Regions from separate parts of the Homo sapiens genome. Here region 1 is linked to region 2. The links come from fine-mapping of genetic effects on gene expression. A gene starts in region 2. The other region holds a variant in brackets. All regions are shown on one strand. Distances are between the middles of the regions. Region 1 overlaps CLEC2D (C-type lectin domain family 2 member D). Region 2 holds the start of LINC02390 (long intergenic non-protein coding RNA 2390).

Region 1 (4,406 bases), 22 kb after region 2:
TACACCTTACACAAAAATTAGCTCAAGATGGATTAAAGACTTAAACATAAGACCTAAAACCATAAAAACCTGAGAACAAAACCTAGGCAATACCATTCAGGACACAGGCATGGGCAAAGGTTTTATGATTAAAACACCAAAAGCAATTGCAACAAAAGCAAAAATTGACAAGCGGGATCTAATTTAACTAAAGAGCTTCTGCACAAAAAAAAAAAAAAAAAAACAAACACAAAAAACAAACTATCATCAGAGTGAACAGGCAACCTACAGAATGGGAGACAAATTTTGCAATCTATCCGTTTGACAAACAGCTAATATCTAGAATCTACAAGGAACTTAAAAAAATTTACAAGAATAAAACAAAAAACCCTATCAAAAAATGGGCAAAAGATATGAACAGACACTTCACAAAAGAAGACATTTATGTGGCCAACAAATATATGATAAAAAGCTCATCATAACTGATCATTAGAGAAATTCAAATCAAAACAACAATGAGATACCATCTCATGCCAGTTACAATGACAATCATTAAAAAGTCAGGAAACAACAGACGCTGAAGAGGATGTAGAGAAATAGGAACACTTTTACACTGTTGGTGGGAGTGTAAATTAGTTCAACCATTTTGGAAAATACAGTGTGGCAATTCCTCAAGGATCTATAACCAGAAATACTGGGTCTATACCCAAAGGATTATAAATCATTCTACTATAAAGACACATGCACTCGTATGTTTATTGTGGCACTATTCACAATAGCAAAGACTTGGAACCAACCCAAATGCTCATCAATGATAGACTGGATAAAGAAAATGTGGCACATATACACCATGGAATACTATACAGCCATAAAGAAGAATGAGTTCATATTCTTTGCAGGGAGACAAATGAAACTGGAAACCATCATTCTCATCAAACTAACACAGGAACAGAAAACCAAATACTGCAGGTTCTCACTCATATGTGGGAGCTGAACAATGAGAACACATGGATGCAGGGAGCGGAACATCACACACTGAGGCGTGTTGAGGGTTGGGGGGCAACGGGAGGGATAGCATTAGGAGAAATACCTAATATAGATGATGGGTTGATAGGTGCATCAAACCACCATGGCACGTGTATACCTATGTAACGAACCTGCGGGTTCTGCACATTTATCCCAGAACTTAAAGTATAATTTAAAAAAAAAGTTAGGGACCAGAGCTATAACTACAAAGCTCTATTAGGAATTTTTATAACTAAAGCCAATCTAAATAACTCGATTTAAATGGGGAAATACCACACTTGAATAGTTAACTAACAATCTAAATGTTAAATAAAACATAAAAATGATATAAAGTAATACATAATAACACATTTAAAAAAAGAAAGAAAGAAAATGACCAGATTAGAAGATGGCTCCAGCTATTGGCTCCACACAAGAAATCATTTCCAAAGTGCTAGCTGAAAGGAAGAGAAACACATAATGGATAATAAAGGAAAACAGTCATAAGTGTCAATTTCATATGCTTACTGTAAAAAAAAGAGCTATAAATTTAAATTATATTTCAGAATACATTCCCTTGATTAATACTGAGGTACTTACAGAGTACAGAAATTGTCTCTTTCCAATTTTTTCTTTCTTAAATAGTTACAATTAGTTGACTTAAATCTCTGAAATAAAAAAATTATTTTTGCTTCATAAATGTATAAAGTATATTATCTGTGGTTTCAAAATGCCAAAAGATAATAAGCAAAAGATTTGCAAATGAATAGAAATTATTTAGAGTGTTATATGGAGTGCTCCAAGTATTGCTGACTCTTAAGTTACGTAAGCAGTATTTGAAGGGTCTCTCTGAAATTACTTCAGAATGTAGTAACAGGGGGTAGATTTTAGGTTGATATCCAGATTGGCATGAGGTTTGGGGGAAGTGCTTTTGTAGTTTTCTATGTCTTCGCTTGGTCTATATTAGATGCACTGCAAGCATGTTTTGAAGTACAAGATAATTTTTATAGCTAATTGCTTTTAGGGTACAATCACTAAACGGAGTTTGTTTTCTAGGAAGATGGGCTACATATGCTAAAAAAAACAAGGGCCAGAACATGCTCAAATAGCTAGGAAGAAAGAACAGGCTGCCTGTGATGTTATACAGCCACTTAGTAGTTTTGTGTACTTTAAACCATCTGTTTTGCTATTTTTCATGAAACAAGGTTGTTGTGGAGGTAAAATTAACCATGTTCCTAGATCGGACAAGAGACTATTTTTCAGTTTACTATTTTTTTTAATTTTTGCATCAATATTCTTAAGGAATAGTGGTCTGTCTTCTACCTTCTGAAGACTCTGATCATCTCACTAAACTTGGAATAATGTGAACCCTATTTACATAATTAAAATTTTTGGTGCCACTTAAAAAGTTATTGGAGTGTAACTCAGTTAGTGAGACAATATATTAAAAGCTGTAAAGAATAACAAAATTATTCAGATTCTTCCTCTTCTTTTTACAAGTATAATTCTCTCTAGATGAATAAAGATTACAGTTCACTTACC[G/A]CTTAAAGCAGCAACCATTCCACACACTATGATTGTCAGAAACATGATTAAGAAAAATAAGCGCCAAATTAAGGTAGCTTTAATAGAATGCTCTTTTGAATGCAGACAACCTGGAAAAAATTATTGAAAAACATTTTAACAATTAAATACAGACATAATACTGCCAGAAACATTAAGCATCAAAATGTTATTTTTATTTAATTCCTTCGCTTTTCACTAGAGGATGCAAATGACCTGTCATCTTATGAACTTACTATTCTATCTCCAGAATTTAATCATTTTCCAAAGTTAAAAGAATTGATTTTAACTTTCCAGCTACCATATTCAAGTTACCCTTTCAATTGGAGAGATTCATGTCAACTAAACCACAGGAATGAAATCAACAAAATCCAAGTAACTGGAAATTCAACATAGCAAATTATTCTGATTCCTGTCTAAAAATGTAAAGAAATATTTTTAAATGATATTAAGAGGAAATCTATCGATTAAAATAGACTTAAAAGGCATTGTTTTGGAGGAAAAAAGGCAAAACTGGAGTGATAAAGTGATTATTGTAGAGGTCAAATTAGTGTTATTCTTGGAAGGATAGGAGAGTGAATAGTTAAGAATACATGGAGGGCCTCTGAGCCACATAACAAGGATCTTTCTTAGACAATGTTAGCAGTTGTATTAGTCCATCCTCACTGCTATGAAGAACTGCCCAAGACTGGATAATTTAAAAAGGAAAGAAGTTTAACTGACTCACAATTCTACATGGCTGGGGAGGCCTCAGGAAACTTACAATAATGGTGGAAGAGGAAGCAAACGTGTTCTTCTTCACATGGCAGCAGGAGACAGAAGTGCCTAACAAAGGGGTAAAAGCCCCTTATAAAACCATCAGATATCATGAAAACTCACTCGCTATCACAAGAACAGCACGAGGGTAACCAACTCCATGATTCAGTTATCTCCCACTGGGTCCCTCCCATGACAAGTGGGGATTATGAGAACTACAATTCAAGATGAGATTTGGGTAAAGACACAGCTAGGCCATATCAGGAGTCAACAAAGGTGTTTATCTTATAATAATTAATCAAGCTACATATTTGTATTGTATAATTTCCTGTAGTTGTGTTATATTTCAAAATGTCTTAGGTTATCTAAAACCTCTTATGAAGTTCATTATTGGAACCCTGTTCTGACACAATCTCTTGCATACAATTCACACCTCTAGTTAATTTATCTAGGTTTGTCCTTAGCTAAATAGGCATATTTTTCTCCAACATTCCCCCCAACACTAGAGAGATCAGCAAGCTTTACATTGATGTTTCCCAAGATATTTGTCTTAATCAATAGATTTTAGTTTTTATCAGTTTAAGTTGACAGAAATACTGAATTAAAAATATAGAGTTCACATATGCCCCTGTACCCCCTTTATCAAAGATTTAAGAAATCATAAGAGAATCCAGAGGAAAATAAATTCTACATGTAGAGAAACAAAGATAAAAATGACATTTACATTCTTCTCAAAAACCATGCAAGCAAGAAGACAGTGGAAACAAATATTTAAAGTATTAAGAGAAAAAACCTTATCAACTTAGAATTCTTTAGCCAAAAAAATTCTTCAAAGTGAATGAGAAACAACCACTATTTTGGAGAAACATTGAGATAACTTGTTGCCAGTAGACTTGTCTTATATCAAAAAACAAAAAAGTTAAATGCAATTATTTTAAAAGGAAAGAGAATTATACAGGTTAGAAACCTAAATTATATGAAAAAGGAACAATATAAAAAATAAGTGAAGGTAAAATAAAACTATTTTTCTTATTCTTAATTGATCTAACAAATGGCAGTTTGTTCAAAATAACAATAGTAGCAATATATTTAATTATGTGTGCTTA
Region 2 (4,406 bases):
AAATAATAGATGTTGGCAAGGTTGTGTTGAAAAAGGAATGCTTTTACGTTGTTGGTGGGAGTGTAAATTAGGTCAACCATTGTGGAAGACAGTATGGCAATTTCTCAAAGACCTAGAGACAGCACTACTATTCGACCCAGCAATCCAATTACTGGGCGTATACCCAAAGCAATATAAATTGTTCTATAATAACTACACACGCACACATATGTTCATTGCAGCACTATTCACAATAGCAAAGACACAAAATCAACCTAAATGCCCATCAACGATAGACTGGATAAAGAAAATGTGGTACATATACACCATGGAATACTATGCAGCCATAAAAAGGAACAAGATCATGTCCTTTGCAGAGACATATATGGAACTAGATGCCATTATTCTTACCAAACTATCACAGGAATGGAAAATCAAATACCACATGTTCTCACTTGTAAGTGAGAGCTAAATGATGAGAACACATAGATACCTAGAGGGAAATAACAAAAACGGGGGCCTACCAAACAGCAGAGGGTGAAAGGAGGGAGAGAATTTAAAAAATAATGGATACTAGGCATAATACTTGAGTGATAAAATAATCTGTACAATAAATCTCCATGACATGTGTTTACCTATGTAACAAATCTACAAATCCTGCACATGTATCTCTGAACTTAAAAGTTAAAAAAAGCAAATGAACATAACTTAATCCCTATTCCTCTCTATATGAAAATTGTGAAATAACTGTGACAATGCAGCAACATTTTCACAAGAAATTGTTCAAGGCCTTGGAGCATAGAATATGTAATATTTGTGAAGAAAGTGTCATAATTATATACAGAAAATATTTATTGGAAGTTCTCCTTGTGCAATTAAAATTCTAAAGATGTAAAAATCAAGTATTTCATATTAATAAAATATTAAAGTACTATGAACTTACCATAAATTTGACTCTGATTTGGCAATTACCTAAAGAAAATACAAGATATGTCTTGTAAACTAAATGATTCATCATTGAAAATAAATGTTAACACATTGTTTAACATCACTAGTTTTCTAGCTCCTTCTTTCAACATAAAATAAGCTTTAATGTAACTTATAAATGTATTCAATTAAAGAGTAACATTAAGGTGGAAAATATCATACATATGTTCACCTTGCTACTAAAACACAATACATAGAATATGTTGAGGTCTCCACTGTAGAATACGCAAGTCAATAAAATCAGCAAATAAAATTGACAAAAGGTGACTATTTCTCATTAAAAAAAGAAAATCATTTACACTTTGTCTTAAAGTTTTAAAGCAGGATATTCCAGTTTTAAGACAAAGAAATGACAAATATGTATACATATATATATATATGCGGGCAAGTGTTCTTTTGACATTAAAAGACCTAGGACAGGCTGAGCTCAGTGGCTCACAACTATAATCCAAGCACTTTGAAAGACCAAGGCAGGTAGATTGTTTGACCCCAAAATTTTGAGACCAGCCTTGGCAACACGGTGTAACTCTGTCTCTACAAAAAATTCAAAAATTAGTCAGGTATAATGGCACATGCCTGTGGTCCCAGCTGCTTGGGAGGCTGATGTGAGAGGATCGCCAGAGTTTGGGAAGCTGAGGCTGCAGTGAGCTATGATCATGCCACTGCACTCCAGCCTGAGCAACAGAGTGAGACCTTGTCTCAATAAATAAATAAATAAATAAATAAATAAATAAATAACCTAGCACAAATTATTTTAAGAGTGTGTGTGTATGTGTGTATATATAAATATTTTTTACAAATATCCTCCAGTAGTATGAAGTTGATTAGTACAATGGAGGAACAACATTTAACAGCTGTCTTATGCCTTAAGGGACATAAATCTTGATTGTCCATTCATAGATATTGTATTTAAAGGAACAATAACTTTACTCTATTCAATTTAGTAGCAACTTCTCCAGAATGGATTGCAGTCAGAAACTGTCAGATCTCTTTTGGGTGAGAACTTTGGAACGTTAAAAATTCTGTCTCTTAAAAATGAATGATGGTCAGGTAGTTGGATGCAGTAATTAGGATTTCTGTTTATTATAAGTAGAGATAATTTTTCTGGGTTGTCTACTAGTTTAGTTATAGAACAAGTCTTCTCTTCCTCTGTGTTGATTGGAACCTTGGCAGATACACCTTCACTGATTTTACTGAAATTTACTGTTCCACTAAAGTAAGGGTAAAAAGAGAAGGAACAGAATAGAAAACTTTCAGTCTTCAGATTTAATGCTACCAACTCATTAGCAGACCCAGTTTTCAGAGTTACTAGAGGAGTAGAGATGTCTACAGATTTCTGACTAATGTCATCATTAGTTTTCTTTTTAAATTATGCTGTGGAGGAAAGTTAGTTATTTTACATAAGAGAGAAAGGGTTTGCTCTGAGAGAAGCAGCATATAACTTTCCACCTCTATATTTTAATGTACCTTTTGAGTAGGGTTAGGAGCAGTGTTGGTGATATGGGTGGGAAGCAGGGAAATACTGGGCAGAAGAGGGCTGTCCCAAGCAAGAGCCACACATCCTCAAGCCTGGGATCACAGACCAAAATGAGAACATGCATTTCCTGCTTTCCCACTCACATGTTGCTTTTTGGCCCACCCCACACCCCATCCTCTACCCATAAAAACCACAGGCCCCATCACCAGAGTGGCAGAGCAGCAGAGCAGCGGAATAGCAGAGTGACAGAGAAAGAAAGAAAAGAAGAAGCAGCCGGATGTCAGAGAGAAGCAGTTTGAGCTCAGAGGGACAGCTTGATGGTGGGACCTCGGAGAAGAGTTTGTCTGAACTCCAGGGGAATACCACCTTCCCATTCCATCCACTTTCCAGCTCCCTATCCCGCTGAGAGCCACTTCCATCCCTCAATAAAATCCTCCACATTCACTACCCTTCAATTTGTTTGCATGACCTGATTCTTCCTGGACGCTAAACAAGAACTGAGGTACCAAGAAGGCAGGTCCAAAAGGCTGTCACCCTGACCCTCCACTGAGCTGTTAAATACTTGTCATCTGTGGATAGAAAAGCTAAAAGAGCACACTGTAACACTCACCCTCTGGGGCTTGAGGGGTCATGGGAACTCCCCTAGATGTTGCCATGGGGCAGCACAGAGTTCTACTCCTGCTGGCACACAGAAGCCCTCATCCTGATCCCTACACCCACTCACCTGTGAGTTTCCCCTCCCATGAGGGGTTGAGAGCTGTGGGCTGAGTAAACAAGCCAACCCCTTTGCAACTCCTGCAAAGAGGCCAGGGAAGTACCCCATTTCATCAACACTCTTGGCAGGTGCCAATGTCCTCTCATCTTTTCTGCTTTTGCAAGAAAAAAAAGAAATTGATTTTTTATGTAGATTTGAAAACTTCTAGGTTTTAACTCCAAAATATTGTTTATATCTCCAAATTTAGCACAAATGGAGTTGTACCAGTCTCTCTCATTCTGGAGTAGGTTTTAGAAGATTAGTCAATGCACCTTCAGCCATGCTCAGTGCACTGTGTGCCTGATGCTTCATTCCTAGGTGAGACTTTGGCCTAGGTGAGTAGTCATTCCAGCTCTCAGTACATACTTTCTTTTCATTGTATTTGAAGGTTTAGGATTGAATTTGTAGTCATCTATAAAATGGATGATTCTTTATACAAGAAGTAGTTGCAATTTTATCAATCCCTTCCAAAGGAGTAAAGAGAGCATCATTACACTGTGCCTTTTGCCTTTTTTTTTTTCCTTTTCTATGTTTGGGTTGATTTAATTTTGGGTTCAATATTGATGAAACAATTAGAGTAATTTCCTTGGAACACCTTCATGATCAGTTTTACATACCTGATAATTTGATCATCTGCCAACTTCCATGACAACATCATTACTTTTGGAAACATCTCTTACATTGATCTCTGTTCTCCTAACCCCATTGTTCATATTATTTCCTGTGTTAATTGGATACTTATTTCATTTCATAATTCTCTTTATTTGAACCCAACAACTTCGAGATTCTTACACAATTGACTACCATCTCTTCGTTGTTTATATGATGTACCATAACATGTGGTTCTCCATCTGTCTTTATAGTTTCTTGTTTTACTCCTTGGAGTTTTGTGAGAAATCTCTAGCACCACTGTCATGGACTTAGGATCTTTTTTTGGAGGGGGCCATATTTATCCTATCTCTTGGCATTGCACTCAGTTCATTTTTATCTATATCTCTTCAATTCTGGATTAAGTGTCTATTCCAAATTGTAGTGATGCTATAGCTTCATTAGACATTTTTGGGCAATCAGAGATAGAGGTTTCACTTGTCAGTATGAGGCAGAGCACTGTTCATAATTTCAGCAACACTTTGGGAATTCACTACGTAAGAAGGTCCTACCCCTTGGATGTAGGCAAGTTCATGTTGCACGCTTTGGGAATGTAGGTTC

The links. PIP is the estimated chance that this variant, and not a neighbour inherited with it, causes the effect.
Region 1: its variant is fine-mapped to the expression of LINC02390 in whole blood (INTERVAL, PIP 0.96).

What each region holds. Positions count from the first base shown.
Region 1 is chr12:9,679,153-9,683,558 of GRCh38, reverse strand. CLEC2D (C-type lectin domain family 2 member D) reads right to left here. Exons shown (of 5, transcript NM_013269.6): 2 at 2,526-2,636. Among named protein-coding and RNA genes, the nearest start is that of CLEC2D, 12 kb to the right of the region's middle. The variant G/A (reference allele first, on the strand shown) is at 2,527.
Region 2 is chr12:9,700,674-9,705,079 of GRCh38, reverse strand. It overlaps LINC02390 (long intergenic non-protein coding RNA 2390), which reads right to left and starts at 1,696. Exons shown (of 2, transcript XR_931347.3): 1 at 923-1,696. It also overlaps a transcript of CLECL1 not described here. RefSeq lists an enhancer at 2,859-2,908.